4 linked regions of the Homo sapiens genome follow. The protein of the gene in region 1 interacts with the protein of each later gene in a biochemical or structural test. Each region holds a gene or a part of one and is shown in the gene's direction. Other genes may lie near its edges.

Region 1 (2,508 bases):
TACTTCCACGTTCACTGAAGCATTGTTCACAATCGCCAAGACATCAACCTAAGTGTCCATCAACAGAAGATAGATAGGGCTGAGCGCGGTGGCCCACGCCTGTAATCCCAGCACTTTGGGAGGCCAAGGCAGGTGGATCATTTGAGGTCAGAAGTTCTTGACCAGCCTGGCCAACATGATGAAACCCCGTCTCTACAAAAGATACAAAAATTAGCCAGGCATCTTGGAGGGCGCCTGTAATCCCACCTACTCGGGCTGAAGTGAGAATGGCTTGAACCCAGGAAGTGGAGATTTCAGTGAGCTGAGATTCCGCCACTGCAGTCCAGCCTGAGCGACAAGAGTGAGAAGAGTGAGACTTCATCTCAAAAAAAAAAAAGGTACATCTACACAATGGAATATTATTAACCTTAAAAGAAGGAAATAACTGATTTACAACAACATGGATGGACCTGGAGGACACTATGCTAGTGAAATAAGCCATGATCTCACTTGGATATGGAATCACAAAATTGAACTCACAAGCAGAGTGTAGAAAGGTGGTTTCATGGACTGGAGGGAGGGGATAAATGGGGAGATGTTGGTCAAGGGTACAAAGTTTCAGTTAAACAGGAGTAGTACGTTCCGGAGACCTGTTGTGCAGCAGGGTGACTAGTTAATGTATACTTGAAAATTGCTAGGAGTAGATCTCACCAGGAGAAATGAATATGTGAGGTGATGGATGTAACTAGCTTGATTGTGGTAATCAATTTCGCAATGTGTACATATATCAAAACATCACATTGTACAAAATACATACAGTTTTTGTCAATTTAAAGATATCAGAATTCTAGAATATGATAAAGTTGTGTTTTCAAGCAAGTAAAGATAGATTACTTAAGAGCGAATGAGTGGTAATTTGGAAACAATGTTGGATTCCTACTTCGTTACCTGCACCAAAATAAGTTGCTCATGGAATAAAAACTTGTCTGAAAAAAAAACCATAAATATGAGGGAAAAAACACAGCAATGTGTTTTTAATGATTTATGAGTGAGGAAGAACTTTCTAAGAACTGAGAATCCAGGAGTTATTTTAAAAGACTGACAAATTTAGCAACATTTTTAAAATCTGAGTGTCAAATTACACACATACACAAATAGTCAATACAAATATAAAACTGGGAAAATATTTGCAGTTCATATCAAAAAAAGGGCTAATATTCTTGTCCCAGAATTCCTACAGTTTTTTAAGGCCAGTAATTTGATACATTAGTGTGTAAAGGATATGACCAGACAGCTCACACACAGACACACAAATGTGAAAAGATGCTTGATCTCACTGATAAAGCATAAATTAAAACGATGTCATTTTTAAAAATCAGATTCGCAAATTTTAAAAGTTGCTAACACTGGAATGGCCAGAGTAAGAGGAAACGTGACACAGGCACAGATTGCTGGTAGACATATAAGTTGGTACAGCCCTCTCTATGTAATTTTGTGTTTGTCAAAATTACAAATATGCATGCCCTTAACCCAGGAATTCCACTCCTCATTATATATCCTACAAATAAACTGGTCTCGTTATGACACAATGTAATGAATACATAGATAAGTACTGAAATACTTGGTTATCATAGCGTAAAGATGGTAATCAACCCAAATGACTATTACCAGAATAGAAATTAAACAAAGTATGATATATCCATAAAACACAATACTATGCAGCTGTTAAGCAGAATGAGACAGTCCTCTATATATCAATATGGATAAAGAGTAAGTGAAAAAAGCCAGGAGAGAATGTTGTCTATAATATGCTGTTGTTGTGTACGGGAAAATAAATAATATAAATACCTAGAATATTTGTGAAGGTACAGCCAAGAAACTACTATCACTGATTGTCTTAAGGTACTAGATGGGGCACAGGACAGGACGAAAGATTTACTTCTTATTGTTTCTTCTGTATAACTTTTGAATTTTATGCTGTTAATGTAATTTTTCAAAAAAATATATAAAAATATAAAAACATGAAAAACATGAAACAATACCTTATATTTTTACATATACTATAAAAAGTAGGAAATATTGGGAGGCCGAGGTGGGCAGATCACCTGAGGTCAGGAGTTTGAGACCAGCCTGACCAACATGGAGAAACCCCATCTCTACTAAAAATACAAAAATTAGCCAGGTGTGGTGGCGCATGCCTGTACTCTCAGCTACTTGGGAGGCTGAGGCAGGAGAATCGTTTGAACCCAGGAGGTGGAGGTTGCGGTGAGCCAAGATCACGCCACTGCACTCCAGCCTGGGCAACAAGGGCAAAACTCCGTCTCAAAAAAAAAGTAGGAAACATGCGAAAAATGATAAAATCAAATTTAAGATACTACTTCTGGAGAGTAAAAGAGGAAGAGAGGGAACAGTATTGGCAAGGGATGCAGACGTGGTTTCAATTATATCTGTAATGGCTTTCCTTTAAAAAATAAGATATGGCCAGGAGCAGTGGTGCACACCTGTAGTCCCAGAGACTGGGGAGGCTGA
Region 2 (2,977 bases), on another chromosome or scaffold:
GGAGCCTGAATTTTCCTGTTTTTTTTTCTATTCCTGTCAGTAGGGTAGAATTTTGTTTGCTAGCATATCAGGCTCAATGGAATTCTGCTTTCTTGAAGTGTGTGCCTCACGAAATGGCTGGAAAGAAGTTAACGGGTCTAAAAATGAGGTTGAGGACGTGGGAGAGTGTACACATTGGTGGTTTTAGGTGTGCATCATTGTGTAGGTATGTCAGACTGAACAACCCCATTCTCTTGAGATACATGACAAAATGCCATTCTGTAGTCCACTGTTACTGTCTTTCAGGGTTTTACATATGTGGCTCCATCTGTACTTGAAAGTGTGAAAGAAAAGTTTTCCTTTGAACCAAAAATCCGATCACCTCGAAGATTTATTGGCAGCCCACGAACACCTGTCAGGTATTTCACACTCTTATTTTCACTTTTTTTTGTTTTTAAACAACCTACAAGAGTGTTTGCTTAAGAAGTTTATGCCAAGTTATATAAATGAAAGACTGTCATACTCTCTTTGGTTGACATAAGCACAGCATCTATATCTTACATTGCAAAGGACTAGTCTGACTAATCTATGATGTTATATGGTTTACCTTCCCTCCCAAAAGTAAGCAGCCATACTGGCAAATGTCCTCTTTATCCATTCACTCAGCATTTATTGTGCACCAAGAGCACCAGCACTACATACTGCATGTTATGTGTGTGTATCTATATAGTACTATAATACAGGAATTGTCCCTGTCCTGATGAAGCTTACAATTTAGTGGGAAAGTCACAATAGACAAAGGATATACAAAAATATAATTACAAGTAGTGCAAAGTGCTATAATTTAAAAGGGGAAAAAAAGAATGTACTGGTAGAGAGCAGAGGAAAAACAAGGGGGCTTCTACTCACAGTGATCAGAGAAAGGCCTCCCTGGTGTAGTAACATCTAGCAGTGAACGGAAAGAGCCAGCCCTACAAAAATAGGAGGTATAAGAATGTTGCAGGCAGAAGAACAGCAAATGCAAAAACCCTGAGGGAGGAGAAAAGTTGCCCTTTTCCTGGAAGTGAAAGGGAAATCAGTGTTCCTGGAGTGTGTGGTGAGTGAGGAGAAGGGCAGAGGTTTGGAAAAGTATTTTATTTTAAATGCAATAGAAAGCTGTTTTGAGCAGGGGAGAGTAAAATGATATATATAATACGCATTTAAATGTATATATATCTCATTGAGGGTTTTGGGGGTCAGGTGTAGAGGTAAAGAGACCAGTTAGGAAATTCTAGCAGTTAATCTAGGTGGGGGAGAGATGGTTCAATTTTTGCCTTTGTGCTAATCCACGTGAAAATAAAATTAAATGAAAATAAATGTCATGTTACCCCACTCCCTTTAAACGTAAAGGAAATATGTCTTGTTGAGATGACCCTTAAGCAAATGAATGATAGCTCTTCCTTGTCTTAAAGCCCAGTCAAATTTTCTCCTGGGGATTTCTGGGGAAGAGGTGCTTCGGCCAGCACAGCAAATCCTCAGACACCTGTGGAATACCCAATGGAAACAAGTGGCATAGAGCAGATGGATGTGACAATGAGTGGGGAAGCATCGGCACCACTTCCAATACGACAGCCGAACTCTGGGCCATACAAAAAACAAGCTTTTCCCATGATCTCCAAACGGCCAGAGCACCTGCGTATGAATCTATGACAGAGCAATGCTTTTAATGAATTTAAGGCAAAAAAGGTGGAGAGGGAGATGTGTGAGCATCCTGCAAGGTGAAACGACTCAAAATGACAGTTTCAGAGAGTCAATGTCATTACATAGAACACTTCAGACACAGGAAAAATAAACGTGGATTTTAAAAAATCAATCAATGGTGCAAAAAAAAACTTAAAGCAAAATAGTATTGCTGAACTCTTAGGCACATCAATTAATTGATTCCTCGCGACATCTTCTCAACCTTATCAAGGATTTTCATGTTGATGACTCGAAACTGACAGTATTAAGGGTAGGATGTTGCTTCTGAATCACTGTTGAGTTCTGATTGTGTTGAAGAAGGGTTATCCTTTCATTAGGCAAAGTACAAAATTGCCTATAATACTTGCAACTAAGGACAAATTAGCATGCAAGCTTGGTCAAACTTTTTCCAGCAAAATGGAAGCAAAGACAAAAGAAACTTACCAATTGATGTTTTACGTGCAAACAACCTGAATCTTTTTTTTATATAAATATATATTTTTCAAATAGATTTTTGATTCAGCTCATTATGAAAAACATCCCAAACTTTAAAATGCGAAATTATTGGTTGGTGTGAAGAAAGCCAGACAACTTCTGTTTCTTCTCTTGGTGAAATAATAAAATGCAAATGAATCATTGTTAACCACAGCTGTGGCTCGTTTGAGGGATTGGGGTGGACCTGGGGTTTATTTTCAGTAACCCAGCTGCAATACCTGTCTGTAATATGAGAAAAAAAAAATGAATCTATTTAATCATTTCTACTTGCAGTACTGCTATGTGCTAAGCTTAACTGGAAGCCTTGGAATGGGCATAAGTTGTATGTCCTACATTTCATCATTGTCCCGGGCCTGCATTGCACTGGAAAAAAAAATCGCCACCTGTTCTTACACCAGTATTTGGTTCAAGACACCAAATGTCTTCAGCCCATGGCTGAAGAACAACAGAAGAGAGTCAGGATAAAAAATACATACTGTGGTCGGCAAGGTGAGGGAGATAGGGATATCCAGGGGAAGAGGGTGTTGCTGTGGCCCACTCTCTGTCTAATCTCTTTACAGCAAATTGGTAAGATTTTCAGTTTTACTTCTTTCTACTGTTTCTGCTGTCTACCTTCCTTATATTTTTTTCCTCAACAGTTTTAAAAAGAAAAAAAGGTCTATTTTTTTTTCTCCTATACTTGGGCTACATTTTTTGATTGTAAAAATATTTGATGGCCTTTTGATGAATGTCTTCCACAGTAAAGAAAACTTAGTGGCTTAATTTAGGAAACATGTTAACAGGA
Region 3 (3,500 bases), on another chromosome or scaffold:
ATGCCATCCATGAGGCCAGCCGTGCCTCCCAGCTCGTTGACGTGGAGAAGGAGTATCGGTCGGTCCTGGATGACCTCACGTGAGTGCAGCCCATCTTCTTCCTTTCAAAGTGGTGGTAAAACATGACAGGGATATTCAGGTAATGGAAAGCTCTAGTATTCCAGAAGTTTAGGAGATGTGTAGAACCTTTTATTTGGAGGACAGAGTCAATAAGGGCAGTCCTCAACCTCATCTTTGAGTCCCAGCCCTTCCCCTTAGGAGTGGCATTGTACATGGTAGTTAGAGTCTCTGTCCAGCTCGTGAAAGCCAGTTGCATGCATAATGTCCAGAAGAGAAGGGCTGTTCACCAGCATGTGCACAAAGTGATCTCAGGAGAGGTGCACCTAAATTCAGGTGTTTCCTATTCGAGATGCCAGGAATACATTGCGCCCCCTTCACATTTTTCTCTGTGCGGTAGCTTCTTTCTAGCTTACTGTCCCCAAACTTAGTGTTCAGTCCTTGGGCAATTTTTCAGATTTGCATTTTTAGAAATAATAAAGACTCCCCGGTTTTCTTTTCTTCCATCCTTGTTCTGACTCTGGAAATGGAGATTTTATTTGTGTCTTAGAGAGGGAGAAGACTTGAGCTGTTTTGAGCATAGCACGTTAATGGGGAAGAAGGGGAGGCTGTAGACCTGAGCAAGGGTAGGAGGTGAGGACAGGAGAGGGGAAGTGGGAGGGGTTGAGCTCACTTATCATTGCTGCTTGGCCCCCGTTGGGCAGTGTTCTGGGCAGTGTCAGGTAAGCAAGAAAGAAGGCGAGGGCTGAACGGGATGGAGGATGGAGCAGTGTCACAGAGGATAGCTGGGGAGGGTGGAGTGTGGCGCTGTCATGAATGTGGTTGTTGGTACTTCAAAGACATGTTTTCTGCTAACCATTCCCTGGTGTGTTCTTTTGGCCTCCTCAGGAGCAGGTGCTCGTTCATGGTTATAGTCTGAGTGTTGAGGACCTCAACTCTTTGTAATGATACTTTTACATTTGATCTTGGAAATGTGTCCTCTTTCTCCAGAGGTGACAGAGGAGAGTTGTGGGGTCTCCATGCAGAGTGATGCTAGATGGCTGGTGGCATGTGGTGTCTCAGCCAGTAATACGCATTGTTTATCCTGTAATCCACAGAGGATACAAACAGCAAATTACACAATCATCAAGAAGATTGAATTTGTGTTTTGAAAATTGGAAGCTACAATTCTATGGTGTCTATTTTAGGAGTAATTTATTTTAAATTGATTTGTTTTCTTTGCACCACAAAGTTTAGTGCTGTAGTAAGTGAATCTTCCATTTATGTAGAAGAAAAATATTGTCGCAGATGTGTGATTTATATAAAAAAATGTTTAAGCATATTTAGGATGCTTCCAGACTTTGGAAGGCTTCCGTAACGGGCTTAAAAAACCCATGTATGCATTTTTTCATGTAAAAGGACAACTTATTGCACATTGTTCTAGCATAGTGTGTTGAATAAAGTAGGCACTTAAATAATGCTTGTAGAATGACTGAAGCAGCTTACAAATGGGAATGAGCTGATCTAAATCAGCTAGATAAAAGAAAACACTAGCAGTCATCTTAAACCTCTAATGATCCTACAAGTTTTATTTGTGGCCAATAAGGGTATGTATTCTGGTTTAGTTTCCTTTATCTTTTAGTTAATAAGAAGTAAAAGGGACATGTTTTTAGCATTTTTCTCTTTATATTATGCTATAAAAATGTTATCAGAGTGCAAAATAGACAATTTATCTTATTTTTCAGGTCATGTACGACATCCCTAAGGCAAATCAATAAAATTATTGAACAGCTTAGCCCTCAAGCTGCCACCAGCAGAGACATCAACAGGAAACTAGATTCTGTAAAACGACAGAAGTATAATAAGGTGATTCAGAATAACATTCAGTATTGCATTTTTGAAAAAGTCATCATTTAGGGGCACTTAATTTAGGAAGTATTTTAAAAAGTGCTTATAAGATGTGAAGCAAATACTTATAATTACAATAGAGAAATTTTGGGTTTCTTTTGTATGTTTAATCTTTCTGCTGTTTTCCTTTAACATCCCATTCTATTGCATTTAAAAAAACACACATACATAGACACACACATCCATACGTATACAGTTGCTCCTTGATTTACAACAGGGTTACATCCCGACAAACCCATCGTAAATTGAAAATATTGTTAGTCAAAAATGCATTAAATACACTGAAAAACCTATCTTAAAGTCAAAATATTGTAAGTCAAACCATAGTTAAGTCCAGAGGCTCCTCAGTTTATAATGGGGTTATGCCCTGATAAACCCATCACAAAGTTGAAAAATTGCAAGTCAGACCATGATAAGTTGGAGACCATCTGTGTATTTGAGAAAAGTTCCTTTTTGGTGTTGCTTGCCTCACTTGGGCGCACTTCCTTAGTTTTCCTGCATCACCATTTCTTTGGCCTGGCTTAGGGTCACACTGGCCTCAGTCTCCTGGTCTCCTGTGAACTCTTTTCTGCTTAGCCCTTGCTTCCTCTAATTGTCTCCACTCTGTTTCTTGGTGGTGCAGCCATTGACCCTCACACACCTTTGCTGACAGTTGCGAGAGCTTGGCCCTTCCTCCCACCTTGGGTGTTACAGTCAGCACCCAGCCACACTGGGGTTGTACTTAGCTTTGGAAAACTTAAGGGTAGGGAATATTTGTTACTTAGGATATTATTTTTATGAAGTTTGAAACTTTTTTTAAGGATTTATGTACAGCTTTGTGAGGTCTGAAACATTTTTTATGATTTATGTACCCCTTTGTGAAAATACATTGCAATAGATAGGAATGACTAGCTGTAACCATTTCAGTTCTGCCATCCCAACTTGTGCTTACAGTTGATTCACTGCAGTGAGTAGAGTCCTTGCATCTTTTCTTTAAGCTCTCCAGGGGCAGGGCTGTGCGTTGGTTCAGTTCACGTGGCCCTCCTTTTATTATACTTTCCACTCACCAGTCTGTTACCTGCACTACCCCATCTTCTCTCACTTGCTTCCAGAATAGCAGCCCAAAGGTCAAAGCTAGCAGTTGCCCAAGGCAGGTGGGTCCTCCCAAATCAGAGAGAGGACATCTGGTCTCTTGTGGGAGCATGTGAAATTGATGTGCAGAGACCTTCTTGGGCTTCTAGTGGGCTGGAATTTCAAGGGTGTAGAGCATCAAACTTGAGACCACTTCAGGTCCTAGTCTAACTTAATTATGCATTCTTGTCTTTAGCAGCTCTTTGATGGTTAGAGGTAGACTATTCAGAGGGAAAGTGCTTTAGACAGAATGTTGCTGAGAGAAAAACTGAGAAAAAACAAATTGCAAGTCATTGCAGTGTGGCATTTATGTTCAGGATTTCCCCTTGTCCCACACTCGTATTTGAAGTTGAAACATTCTTGACCTTGGAAAGATGAACCAGGTACCACAAGCCCAGTTCATTGGGCCTCCCCAGTGAAGCCCAAGGGCACATATCTGAGTTCTG
Region 4 (3,500 bases), on another chromosome or scaffold:
CTCATCACAGAAAAGATGAAAAGAGAAAAGAGAAACGTAGGCATCGTAGCCATTCAGCAGAAGGGGGTACAGAAGCATTTACTTTCTTTGACATCATGTTCAAGTGTGGTTTCTTTCCTGTTCCTACTCTTCTGCCTTCCCCAGAGCACCACTGAAAAACCAGAGAAAGCAAACTCTAGCTGAAAGCATACGTGTGTCACAGACCGTTCAGAATGGCTATAGAGAGAATACTCTAGCTAAAAGCATGCGTGCGTCACAGACCGAAAACCAGAGAGAGCAAACTCTAGCTGAAAGCATGCGTGTGTCACAGACCGAAAACCAGAAAGAGCAAACTCTAGCTGAAAGCGTGCGTGTGTCACAGACCATTCAGAATGGCTATAGAGAGAATAGCTGAAAGCATGCATGTGTCACAGACCGTTCAGAAGGGCTATGAGAGCAAACTAACTAAAAGCATGCGTGTGTCACAGACCAAAAACCAGAGAGAGCAAACTCTAGCTGAAAGCACGCGTGTGTCACAGACCATTCAGAAGGGCTATACAGAGCAAACTCTAGCTAAAAGCATGTGTGTGTCACAGACTAAAAACCAGAGAGAGCAAACTCTAGCTGAAAGCATGCATGTGTCACAGACCATTCAGAAGGGCTATACAGAGCAAACTCTAGCTAAAAGCATGCGTGTGTCACAGACCAAAAACCAGAGAGAGCAAACTCTAGCTGAAAGCGTGCGTGTGTTACAGACCATTCAGAAGGGCTATAGAGAGAATACTCTATCTGAAAGCATGCGTGTGTCACAGACCATTCAGAGGGGCTATAGAGAGCAAACTCCAGCTGAAAGCATGCGTGTGTCACAGACCGTTCAGAAGGGCTATACAGAGCAAACTCTAGCTAAAAGCATGCATGTGTCCCAGACCGAAAACCAGAGAGAGCAAACTCCAGCTGAAAGCATGCGTGTGTCACAGACCATTCAGAAGGGCTATAGAGAGAGTACTCTAGCTGAAAGCGTGCATGTGTCACAGACCATTCAGAGGGGCTATAGAGTACTCTAGCTGAAAGCATGCGTGTGTCACAGACCGTTCAGAGGGGCTACAGAGAGCAAACTCCAGCTGAAAGCATGCGTGTATCACAGACCGAAAACCAGAGAGAGCAAACTCTAGCTGAAAGCGTGCGTGTGTCACAGACCATTCAGAATGGCTAGTCCATTTTTCCTCTGGGGTTTTCTCTCCCCCATTATATTGTTTGGAAGCAGTTTGTTTACATTTAAAATGACCTGAATTCAACAAGTATAGGAGAAAAACACACCCCAAAATGGGTATTTGCTCAAGTCCAAAGAATGGGTTTGGCTTGAGCAGTTTGATCTCGTACCAACATCAGGAGGTTCTTACGGGTGTTAGGAAAATTGGACCTGGAGCCCGATTGAAATGTCATGATTATAAATACACTTGATTAATTAATGTGGCTTCATTGCACAGTGGAGAAGCCCACTGATAGCAAAGCTTTGTTCTGTAGTCTTTGTGAAGAGTGATTTTTGTATTATAAAACTGATAATTATAGTTTATTCAGTATGGAAAAGTTTTAAAAGACGAATATTACAATTCTGCTCTTCTGTGATAGCAGAATTGTTTTTCTTTTTTCTTCTTTCTTCATAATTAGACGCTTACTGCAGATAGTTTTTTATTTTCAAAGTTTTTTATTTAACATAAAATCATGATTATTCGGCTGGGTGCAGTGGCCCAGGCCTGTAATCCCAGCACTTTGGAGGATCAATTGAGTCCGGGAGTTCAAGACCAGCCTGGCCAATATAGCGAGACCCTGTCTCTTTAAAAAAAAAAAAAAAAAAAAAAAAGGCCGGGCGCGGTGGCTCACAACTGTAATCCCCACACTTTGGGAGGCCGAGGCCGGCAGATCACGAGGTCAGAACATCAAGACCATCCTGGCTAACATGGTGGAACCCCGTCTCTACTAAAAAGACAAAAAATTAGCCGGGCGTGGTGGCAGGCGCCTGTAGTACCAGCTACTCGGGAGGCTGAGGCAGGAGAATGGTGTGAACACGGGAGGCGGAGCTTGCAGTGAGCCGAGATTGCGCCACTGCACTCCAGCCTGGGCGACAGAGCAAGACTCCATCTCCAAAAAAAAAAAAGAAAAAAAAGAAAAATTAGGATTACTTAACGTTAACATCATTATTTAAATATTTATTTAAATATTTACTGTTCTTGATTTAATTTCTTTTTTTTTTTTTTTTGGGACGGAGTCTTGCTTGTCACCCAGGCTGGAGTACAGTGGCGCAATCTCAGCTCACTGCAAATTCCATCTCCTGGGTTCACGCTATTCTCCCGCCTCAGCCTCCCGAGTAGCTGGGACTACAGGTGCCCGCCACCACACCCAGCTAATTTTTTGTATTTTTAGTAGAGATGGGGTTTCACCGTGTTAGCCAGGATGGTCCCGATCTGACCTTGTGATCCGCCCACCTCGGCCTCCCAGAGTGCTGGAATTACAGGCGTGAGCCACCGCGCCCGGTCTTAATTTCAGTTTCACGTGGGTTTTTTTTTTTTTTTTGCCCAGGCTGTAGTGCAGTGGCGTGATCTCGGCTCACTGCAACCTCCGCCTCCCGGGTTCAAGCAATTCTTCTGCCTCAGCCTCGCTTAGTAGCTGGGATTACAGGTGCCTGCCACCACGCCCAGCTAATTTTTGTATTTTTAGTAGAGACGGGGTTTCACCATGTTGGCCAGGATGGCCTTGAACTCCTGACCTCAGGTGATCCGCCCGCCTCAGCCTCCCAAAGTGCTAGGATTACAGGCATAAGCCTCCGTGCCCGGCTTCATGTGAAATTTTTGAAGTGAGGTTTCTTTGCATGACACTTTATTTCTCATTAGGGAAGCATGCTAGAGTGAAAGAAAAAGAAAGAGAGCACGAACGTCGGAAACGGCATCGAGAAGAACAGGATAAAGCTCGCCGGGAATGGGAAAGACAGAAGAGAAGGGAGATGGCAAGGGAGCATTCCAGGAGAGAAAGGTGAGTCGGCTGGGTCAGTTGAGGACTTTATAAAAGGGCTGTGGTAGTGTGTCCCATCCTAGAAATGAAGAAGAATTTGGCAATAGAAGTCACATCTGAGCCAGGTGTGGTGGCTCACGCCTGTAATCCCAGCACTTTGGGAGGCCGAGGTGGGCGGATCATGAGGTGAGGAGATGGAGACCATCCTGGCTGACATGGTGAAACCCCGTCTCTACTAAAAAAATACAAAAAATTAGCTGGGCATGGTGGCGGGCACCTGTAGTCCCAGCTACTTGGGAGGCTGAGGCAGGAGAATGGCGTGAACCCGGAAGGTGGAGCTTGCATTGAGCTGAGATCCCGCCACTGCACTCCAGCCTGGGCGACAGAGCGAGACTCCGTCTCAAAAAAAAAAGAAGAAGTCACATTTGGTGCAGAAGTGGTAGACATGGAAACAGCACAGTGAACGCTGGACGAGGCTGACCAAGAGAACTGTCCTGAGGGAGTGAGTTTTCACT

What was found.
Region 2: of the proteins of EIF3F (region 1) and RPS6KB1, one has a biochemical effect on the other in vitro, tested with the Homo sapiens proteins (one study listed by BioGRID).
Region 3: the proteins of EIF3F (region 1) and ERCC6 form a complex in vitro, tested with the Homo sapiens proteins (one large-scale study listed by BioGRID).
Region 4: of the proteins of EIF3F (region 1) and CDK11B, one has a biochemical effect on the other in vitro, tested with the Homo sapiens proteins (one study listed by BioGRID and IntAct).

The regions. Positions count from the first base shown.
Region 1 is NC_000011.10:7,999,845-8,002,352, forward strand, and holds the end of EIF3F (eukaryotic translation initiation factor 3 subunit F), read left to right. Parts: 3' UTR 1-2,008; downstream 2,009-2,508. UniProt on the Homo sapiens protein: Component of the eukaryotic translation initiation factor 3 (eIF-3) complex, which is required for several steps in the initiation of protein synthesis.
Region 2 is NC_000017.11:59,945,121-59,948,097, forward strand, and holds part of RPS6KB1 (ribosomal protein S6 kinase beta-1), read left to right. Parts: intron 1-285; coding exon 286-398; intron 399-1,430; coding exon 1,431-1,668; 3' UTR 1,669-2,466; coding exon of another isoform or gene 2,467-2,482; 3' UTR 2,483-2,977. UniProt on the Homo sapiens protein: Serine/threonine-protein kinase that acts downstream of mTOR signaling in response to growth factors and nutrients to promote cell proliferation, cell growth and cell cycle progression.
Region 3 is NC_000010.11:49,529,122-49,532,621, reverse strand, and holds part of ERCC6 (DNA excision repair protein ERCC-6), read left to right. Parts: coding exon 1-79; intron 80-1,781; coding exon 1,782-1,902; intron 1,903-3,500. UniProt on the Homo sapiens protein: Involved in repair of DNA damage following UV irradiation, acting either in the absence of ERCC6 or synergistically with ERCC6. Involved in the regulation of gene expression.
Region 4 is NC_000001.11:1,649,005-1,652,504, reverse strand, and holds part of CDK11B (cyclin-dependent kinase 11B), read left to right. Parts: coding exon 1-66; intron 67-2,867; coding exon 2,868-3,006; intron 3,007-3,500. UniProt on the Homo sapiens protein: Plays multiple roles in cell cycle progression, cytokinesis and apoptosis. Involved in pre-mRNA splicing in a kinase activity-dependent manner. Isoform 7 may act as a negative regulator of normal cell cycle progression.